Linked DNA regions of Homo sapiens. The protein of the gene in region 1 interacts with the protein of each later gene in a pairwise test. Each region holds a gene or a part of one and is shown on either strand. Other genes may lie near its edges.

Region 1 (3,923 bases):
TATTAATCATGTATTTGGCTCCATCATTGAGCATAGTGCCTGACACACAGTGTGTCTTCAATATTTTATGGTATGTGTGACAGAGGATATAAGACATAACACCATTGACATTTCCAGACTTAACATTTGTGAGTCATCTTGAAAGTACCACTTCATAGAATCATTGTGAAGATTAATAAGGTTTCCAATTTGACTTTTATCATGAGACTGTGCTTAACCTCCCCACTTCCCTCCCTCTTCCCCTGCATACACTATCACTGCATCTCAGTTACTGCTGTTTGAGAATTTGGGGATTCCTGTAGATGTCACTTCCTGTCCATTATGAATGCCATATTTTCAGGAAAAACTGCCATCCATCATATAGTAAGATAAGTGAACAGAAGGAAGTATAGCCAAAGTGCTAAGGGACTTCAGAGAGGGAGAGGACCTCTCTGTTCACTTCCTCAGGGAGTGTGAGTTGTGGTTTCTCCAAAGATGAATTAAATTCAAATGATTTCGTATCAACGTGCTTTAAAAATATTTAGACAAATGGAAGGACAAAAGGAAGGGGGAGGAAATACTCAGTTTTTTTAAGGGGGAAAAATACGTGCTTTTAAATTTTAATTTAAAATTTTTTAACTTTATATTTGTATATTTCCAAGCTTGTTTTGATTTACTGTAGCCTGTCAGAAGAATAATAGAAACCAAGAATCATATTTTATACTGTTATCAGGTGCTATTGTTTATATATTTTACTTTCTCTGAAATCTAAGTACCTTTGTGGTTGTTTTTCTCCTGATTTTGCATTTTTACTGTTTTGTATAGATCCTTCTGTTTTACGAGGCCCTCTGCTAGGCCACACGGATGCAGTCTGGGGTTTGGCTTATAGTGCAGCACATCAGCGTTTGTTGTCCTGTTCAGCAGATGGCACTCTGCGTTTATGGAATACAACTGAGGTTGCTCCAGCACTAAGTGTATTTAATGATACTAAAGGTACATACTTTAAAAAATTATTTTGCTGAATCCTCTATAAAACAGTTTATTCTGAAAATAAGCAAGCAGATAAATGATTCCCTGAACTCTTTAAATTTAATTTGAAAGTTTTTGAAGCCACGAAAGTGTATTTGTTTGAATTTCCAACCTATATATAATTTTGTTTTGTTTTGTTTTGTTTTGTTTTGTTTTTTTTGAGACGGAGTATCACTCTGTTGCCCAGGCTGGAGTGCAGTGGCGCAATCTCGGCTCACTGCAACCTCCATCTCCCAGTTTCAAGCAATTCTCCTGCCTCAGCCTCCAGCACACACCACCACGCTCAGCTAATTTTTGTAGTTTTTTTAGTAGAGACAGGGTTTTGCTGTGTTGGCCAGGCTGGTCTGGAACTCCTGACCTCAAGTGATTCGCCTGCCTCAGCCTCCCGAAGTGCTGGGATTACAGGCATGAGCCACTGCACCCAGCCTATAATTTTTGAAAGCATAGTTTTTGGTGAAAGAACACACAGATTTTAGATTTTAAAAAATTAAGATATAATTTGTATGTAGTGAAAAACAGATATTAAGGATACATTTCAGTGAGTCTGATAGATGAGTACACCCATGTAACTCATACATCAATCAAGACATAGAATCCAGGTGTGGTGGCTCACACCTGTAATCCTAGCACTTTGGGAGGCTGAGGCAGGAGGATCACGAGAGGCCAGGAATTTGGGACCAGCTGGGCAACATAGCGAGGCCCTGTCTCTACATTTTCTTTAAAAAAAAAAAAGACTATATTTGCCCATTCTCGTACCACTATAAAGAAATACCTGAGACTGGGTAATTTGTTTAAAAAAAAAAAAGGTTTAATTGGTTGACGGTTCTGTACAGGAAGCATAGCAACTTTTCTTTGGCTTCTGGGGAGGCCTCAAGCAATTTACAATCATGGTGGAAGTCAAAGGGACAGGAGGCATGTTTTACATGGCCGGAGCAGGAGGAAGAAGGGGGTGGGACCTATTTTTAAACAACCAAATCTTGTGAGAACTCTATCACGAGAATAGCACCAAAGGGGAAAATCCACCCCATGATCCAATCACCTCCCGCCAGGCCGTATCTCCAATATTGGGGATTATGTTTGACATGAGACTTGAGTGAGGACACAGATCCAAACCGTATGAGAGATAGAACATTTCCTTTATCTCCCCAAAGTTCCTTCGTGTCTTTCCAAGTCAGTCCCCTCCTTTCCTTATTCCCAGCCAGAGGTACCCACTGTTGTGATTTCTTTCATCATAGATTAGTTTTATCTACTCAAACGTCATGTAAATGGAATAGTAAAGTATGTGTTCTTTGTATCTTGCTTTTATTCTTCATTATAATGTTTTGGAAATTCATTTGTGTTATATCAATTATTTCTTTCATTTTTATTTGATAGTATTTCATTAAGCCATAATTTGTCTATTCATTTATATCTTGATGGATATTTGGGTTGTCTCTAGTTTTTTGCTATTTTGAACAAGGCTGCTATGAACATTCATATATTTTCATTATAGGTGTGTAGAGACTTAGAATTGCTGGGCTTTCAGGTGGATGTTTATTTTACTTTATGTGAAGTCACTAAAAATTTTTCAAAAAAATTTTGTAGTTGTACCATTTTACACCTTTGACAGCAGTGTATGAGCATTCCAGTTGCTCTGCATCCTTACAAACATACAGTATTGTCAGTCTGTTTAACTTTAGCCATTCTGGTGGATGTGTAGTAGTATTTCATCATAGTTTATTTGCATTTCTTTGATGGCTAATTTTGATGAGCATTTCTTTTGTTTGCTTATTGGTTATTTGTGTATCTTCTTCTGCAGTATGCACATTTTTGAACTGTTACCTTGCTGTAGTTAGATTTTGAGCCAAATGAAAAAAATCAGATTATTATATTCACTTTATATGTTTCCTTCTATTTTTATGTTTATAAATAAGCTCTAAGTTTTCATGTATTCTAGATGGTAAATAAAAATACCTTCTGTATTCTTGAGCTATTATAACTTCTTTCCAGGCTTTGATGAGTTGTCTTCATATGGTATTTGCATGACTCTAACGATAAATAATAATTTTAAATTTTACTTTTTAATTTCTCTATTTTTGATGAGCTAACATCCCTAATAAGAGATGGGTTTTTTAAAATGAAGAATTCCCACTATGTCACTCTAAGCTTGAGGTTGGGCGGAAGCAGCAAAATTTGTAATTCATACATGTTTTCCATTTGCTCTCTAAATAAAGGCTTGCATTCCATGAATATATCAGTTGAGTAACAGGTAGAAGATCTGCTAAGCAGGTAAGGGAAATAAATAGACTAGGGCTAAAAGTTACAAAGAAATAATCTCCAATGAATAGTTATGAGCTAATTCTTATTCTAATGGTAAGCCTTGTTTACTTCTTAAGGAAACCATGCCATTTTTTGTTTTGCTCTATTTTAAGCAGATTGTCAAGTAGATGGTTTAATTGCCATTCTATTTCAATATGTTCTCTTTCAGAACTGGGAATCCCTGCCTCTGTGGATCTAGTGAGCAGTGACCCGAGCCATATGGTAGCATCATTCAGCAAGGGATATACAAGCATTTTTAACATGGAAACACAACAACGCATTCTCACTTTAGAATCCAATGTAGATACAAGTATGCATACCAATTTTAAATTGTCTGTGTTTATTTTTTTAACTTAATCAAAATTACGACTACTAGAGTCAGCTGTGAAAAATATTTGTCATTATAAAGCTTTCTGTCTCTTAACTTTCAGAACACAGTTACTTAGAAGGTTGTAATTATTTACCTTTTAAGAATTTGGGTTAAGTTTATGTACATTTATAACTATACTGTTTGAAATAGCATTTGAGCTGTTATGGGTCAAGTTTTATTTTATACTAAATGATTAATTTTCAATTCTATTTGAAGAAAGCCATATTTATTCTGAATAGGAAATTCT
Region 2 (3,923 bases), about 160 Mb from region 1:
TGAAACCCCATCTCTACTAAAAATACAAAAATTAGCTGGGCATGGCTGCGCCTGTAGTCCCAGCTACTCGGGAGGCTGAGGCAGAAGAATCACTTGAACTCGGGAGGCAGAGGTTGTGGTGAGCCGGGATCACACCACTGCACTCCAGCCTAGGCAACAGAGCAAGACTCTGTCTCAAAAAAAAAAAAAAAAAAAAAAAAGACAAAAGATGACACAGTTATGCAAAAATGGGGAAACGGAAATACTATATTAGCGGTTAAGAGATACAATTAAGGAAAATCATGAAATAAGAATAAAACCCAGGCTGGCATGGTGGTAATCCCAGCACTGTGGGAGGCCAAGGTGGGTGGATTGCTTAAGCCCCGGAGTTTGAGACCAGCCTAGGCAACATGGTGAAACCTTGTCTCTACAAAAAATACAAAAAACTAGCCAGGCTTAGAGGCATGCACTAGTAGTCCCAGCTACTCAGGAGGCTGAGGTGGGAGGATTGCTTCAGCATGGGAGACAGAGGCTGCAATGCGCCAAGATTGCACCACTGCATTCCAGCCTAGGCAACAGATCAAGACCCTGTTTCAAAAAAAAGGCGGGGATAATAAGGCCCAAATGAATAAATGTAGAAAGGGTGGCTCAATACTTTGGGAGGACAAGGTAGGAAAATTGCTTGAATCCAGGAGTTTGAGACTAGCCTGGGCAACACAATCAGATCCTGTCTCTACAAAAAATTAAAAAATTAGTGAGGCATGCTGGCACACACCTGTAGTCCCAGCTACTCTGGAAGCTGAAGTGGGAGGATCACTTGAGCCTAAGAGGTAGAGGCACAGTAAGCAGTGATTACACCACTGCACTCCAACGTGGGCAAGAGAGTGAGACCCCATCTCAAAAAAAAAAAAAAAAAAGAAAAGAAAAGAAGAGAGGTGCAGAGGCAGGTCCAAATTATCAACTCTGAAATAAACCACCTTTCAAAATGAGTGACTCTGCAGCATAATTTGACCTGGAAACAACCAGTGAAGAAAGCTGAGAACCTTGTGACACTGAAAATGCCAAAGCTTTAAAATTTGGCTTCTTAGTCTGCAGTTACATAGTAAATTTTACAATTCATAATTATCATTAATATGAAAGCTAGTTTTGTGAGAGGTACTATTAGTATTTTGATGTAAGGTCCTACCTTAAATGTTCATACTTCCACACACCTTCATCTTGGCCTTCAGGTGGTTCAAGAATTTTGTCAATATTGGAGCAATCTGCTCTTATGTTCTGTTGAATATACTAAAAACAAAGAAGTTCTTATGGTTAATTAAATTATATCACCTGGTAAATCTTATGTTAAGTACATATAATTTGTTAATACATAACTGCTCTTGTGGTTCAACTTGGGTTATACACTAAATAGGAAACCAAGTATAGAATCATAATCAGTAACTAAGAAAAAAAGTAGGTTACCCTTACTTATTTATCCTTCAATTCAACTTCATTTGGATAGAATCTACTACATAAATGCAGATATTGTATTTGTCAGGACTGGAACTTGGATCAAAATTGCAAACCATAATTTCTTTTTTTTTTTTTTTTTTTTGAAACAGGGTCTCACTGCATCACCCAGGCTGGAGTACAGTGGCACAATCTCAGATCACTGCAATATCCACCTCCTGGGCTCAAGCAATCCTCCCACCTCAGCCTCCTGAGGAGCTGGGACTACAGGCACACGCCATCACGCCGGGCTAACTTTTCCATATTTTGTAGATACAGGATTTCACCATAGGCAATGTAAATATAACTATGGTACATATTGTGATTTGGTTTATATGAAGTGTCTAGAGTAAGAAAATCTATTGAGACAGGAAATAGATTTGTACTGGTGTAGGGCTTGAGGGCAGAGAGGAAGGCAGAAGAGACTGAAGATGGCTGCTAATGAGGGTGAGGTTTCCTTTCAGGAAGGATAAATATGTTCTAAAAGGCCGGGCGTCGGGGCTCATGCCTGTAATCCCAGCACTTTGGGAGGCCGAGGTGGGCAGATCACAAGGTCAGAAAATCGAGACCATCCTGGCTAATATAGTGAAACCCAATCTCTACTAAAAATACAAAAAAATTAGCCAGGCGTGGTGGCACACACCTGTAGTCCCAGCTACTCTGGAGGCTGAGGCAAGAGAATCGCTTGGACCCGGGAGGCGGAGGTTGCAGTGAACCAAGATCGTGCCACTGCACTCCAGCCTGGGCAACACAGTGAGACTCCATCTCAAAAACAAAACAACAACAAAAAAGCTTTAAAATTAGACTGTAGTGATGGCTGTGCAACCCTGTGAATATAATCACTCTAACTGTATAGGGATTTGTATGGTATGTTCATTAGATCCAATAAAAGTTGTTTTAAATGACTAACAGAAAAAACTAAGTTTAAAAAAAAAGGCAAGGGAGGGTCACTTTCAATTTTTAAAATGTAATAACATAAAAATTTAAATTTCAGATCTCTGTAATGCTTTATGCAATCTTTTTGATATTCTGAAGTCTAAATACGTTAGAACAGATTAAAAGGGTGGTTACAAAAACTTACTAACTATAAGGCCTTCTTGAGCCAATCAATTTTGCCTACTTCAGACAATCTTTCTTGAATATCACTTGCTTACTCAAAAACTTTTTTTTCCAAACAAAAGGTCTCACATATTTAGTACTGAACCAGCCTACTGCAGAGCATAGAAACCAAAAGAAAAACCATTGTTCCAATACAGCATGTACAACTGTCCAGATGATGGTGACATTTTCAGCTTGATATGGTGACATGATAGTGACCTTGATGCAATATTAAGTATGTGTGCCATCTCATGTAAAATTCCTTCTAGACCCAGCTTGGTTCTTTTCCAATGTCTCCTCTTAGAGTTGTACCTGATTTTATTACTCAGTTTTCATCTGAATCCACTGGGGAATGGGACGATTTTGCTTTTGTTTCTTGGCCAGGAATCACTTGATTCTAAAAGTCTTAAAGTCTTGTGGGAAGGCATGGCAAAGAACTGAGTCACACGCACACACCATGATGACAGGGAAAGGGATCAAATACTTTTTTTTTTTTTTTTTTTTTTTTGAGGAGTTTTGCTCCTGTCGCCCAGGCTGGAGTGCAATGGCTCAGTCTTGGCTCACTGCAACCTCCGCCTGCCGGGTTCAAGCGATTCTCCTGCCTCAGCCTCCCGAGTAGCTGGGAATACAAGCACCTGCCATCACGCCCGGCTAATTTTTGTATTTTTTGTAGAGACAGGGTTTCGCCATGTTAGTAAGGCTGGTCTCAAACTCCTGACCTCAGCTGATCCACCCGCCTCGGCCTCCCGAAGTGCTGGGATTACAGGCATGAGCCACCGTACCCAGCCTCAAACACTTTTTAATGACTCTTTAATTACTATTGAAACCACTCTCCCTGATTTTTTTTATCTCATCCTAATGTTTCAAAGTTTTGATTCTCTCTCTCCTTGAGGAGATACAGCTAAATTGTATACCTTCTCCAAAGGCCACCTCAAATTCCACATCACAATTCTGTCCAAATCTCTCGTTCCCCCAACACACTCAAGCACTCCCTGATTATTCGAATCCTCACAGAACTCCATCCAATTTCCTGCCACATTTGTAATTTGTATATATTAGCAATCTGTCTATTCATTTTTGTCTTTCCTGTTCCCACTACACCTTCTATGGATAGAAATTTTTTTTTGTTTTTGAGATAGAGTCTCACTCTGTCGCCCAGGCTGGAGTGTAGTGGCGCAATCTCAGCTCACTACAACCTCTGCCTTCCGGGTTCAAGTGATCCTGTTGTCTCAGCCTTCCAAGTAGCCGGGATTATAGACATGCGCCACCATGCCCAGCTAATTTCTGTATTTTTAGTAGAGATGGTGTTTCACCATGTTGGTCAGGCTGGTCTTGAAGTCCTGACCTCAAGTGATCCA

Evidence for each region.
Region 2: the proteins of STRN (region 1) and MOB4 interact in binary tests that used the Homo sapiens proteins (3 or more experiments, as listed by UniProt).

The regions. Positions count from the first base shown.
Region 1 is NC_000002.12:36,854,905-36,858,827, reverse strand, and holds part of STRN (striatin), read left to right. Parts: intron 1-804; coding exon 805-972; intron 973-3,475; coding exon 3,476-3,616; intron 3,617-3,923. UniProt on the Homo sapiens protein: Calmodulin-binding scaffolding protein which is the center of the striatin-interacting phosphatase and kinase (STRIPAK) complexes.
Region 2 is NC_000002.12:197,532,873-197,536,795, reverse strand, and holds part of MOB4 (MOB-like protein phocein), read right to left. Parts: intron 1,267-3,923; coding exon 1,166-1,266; intron 1-1,165. Other genes in the region: HSPE1-MOB4 protein, read right to left, coding at 1,166-1,266.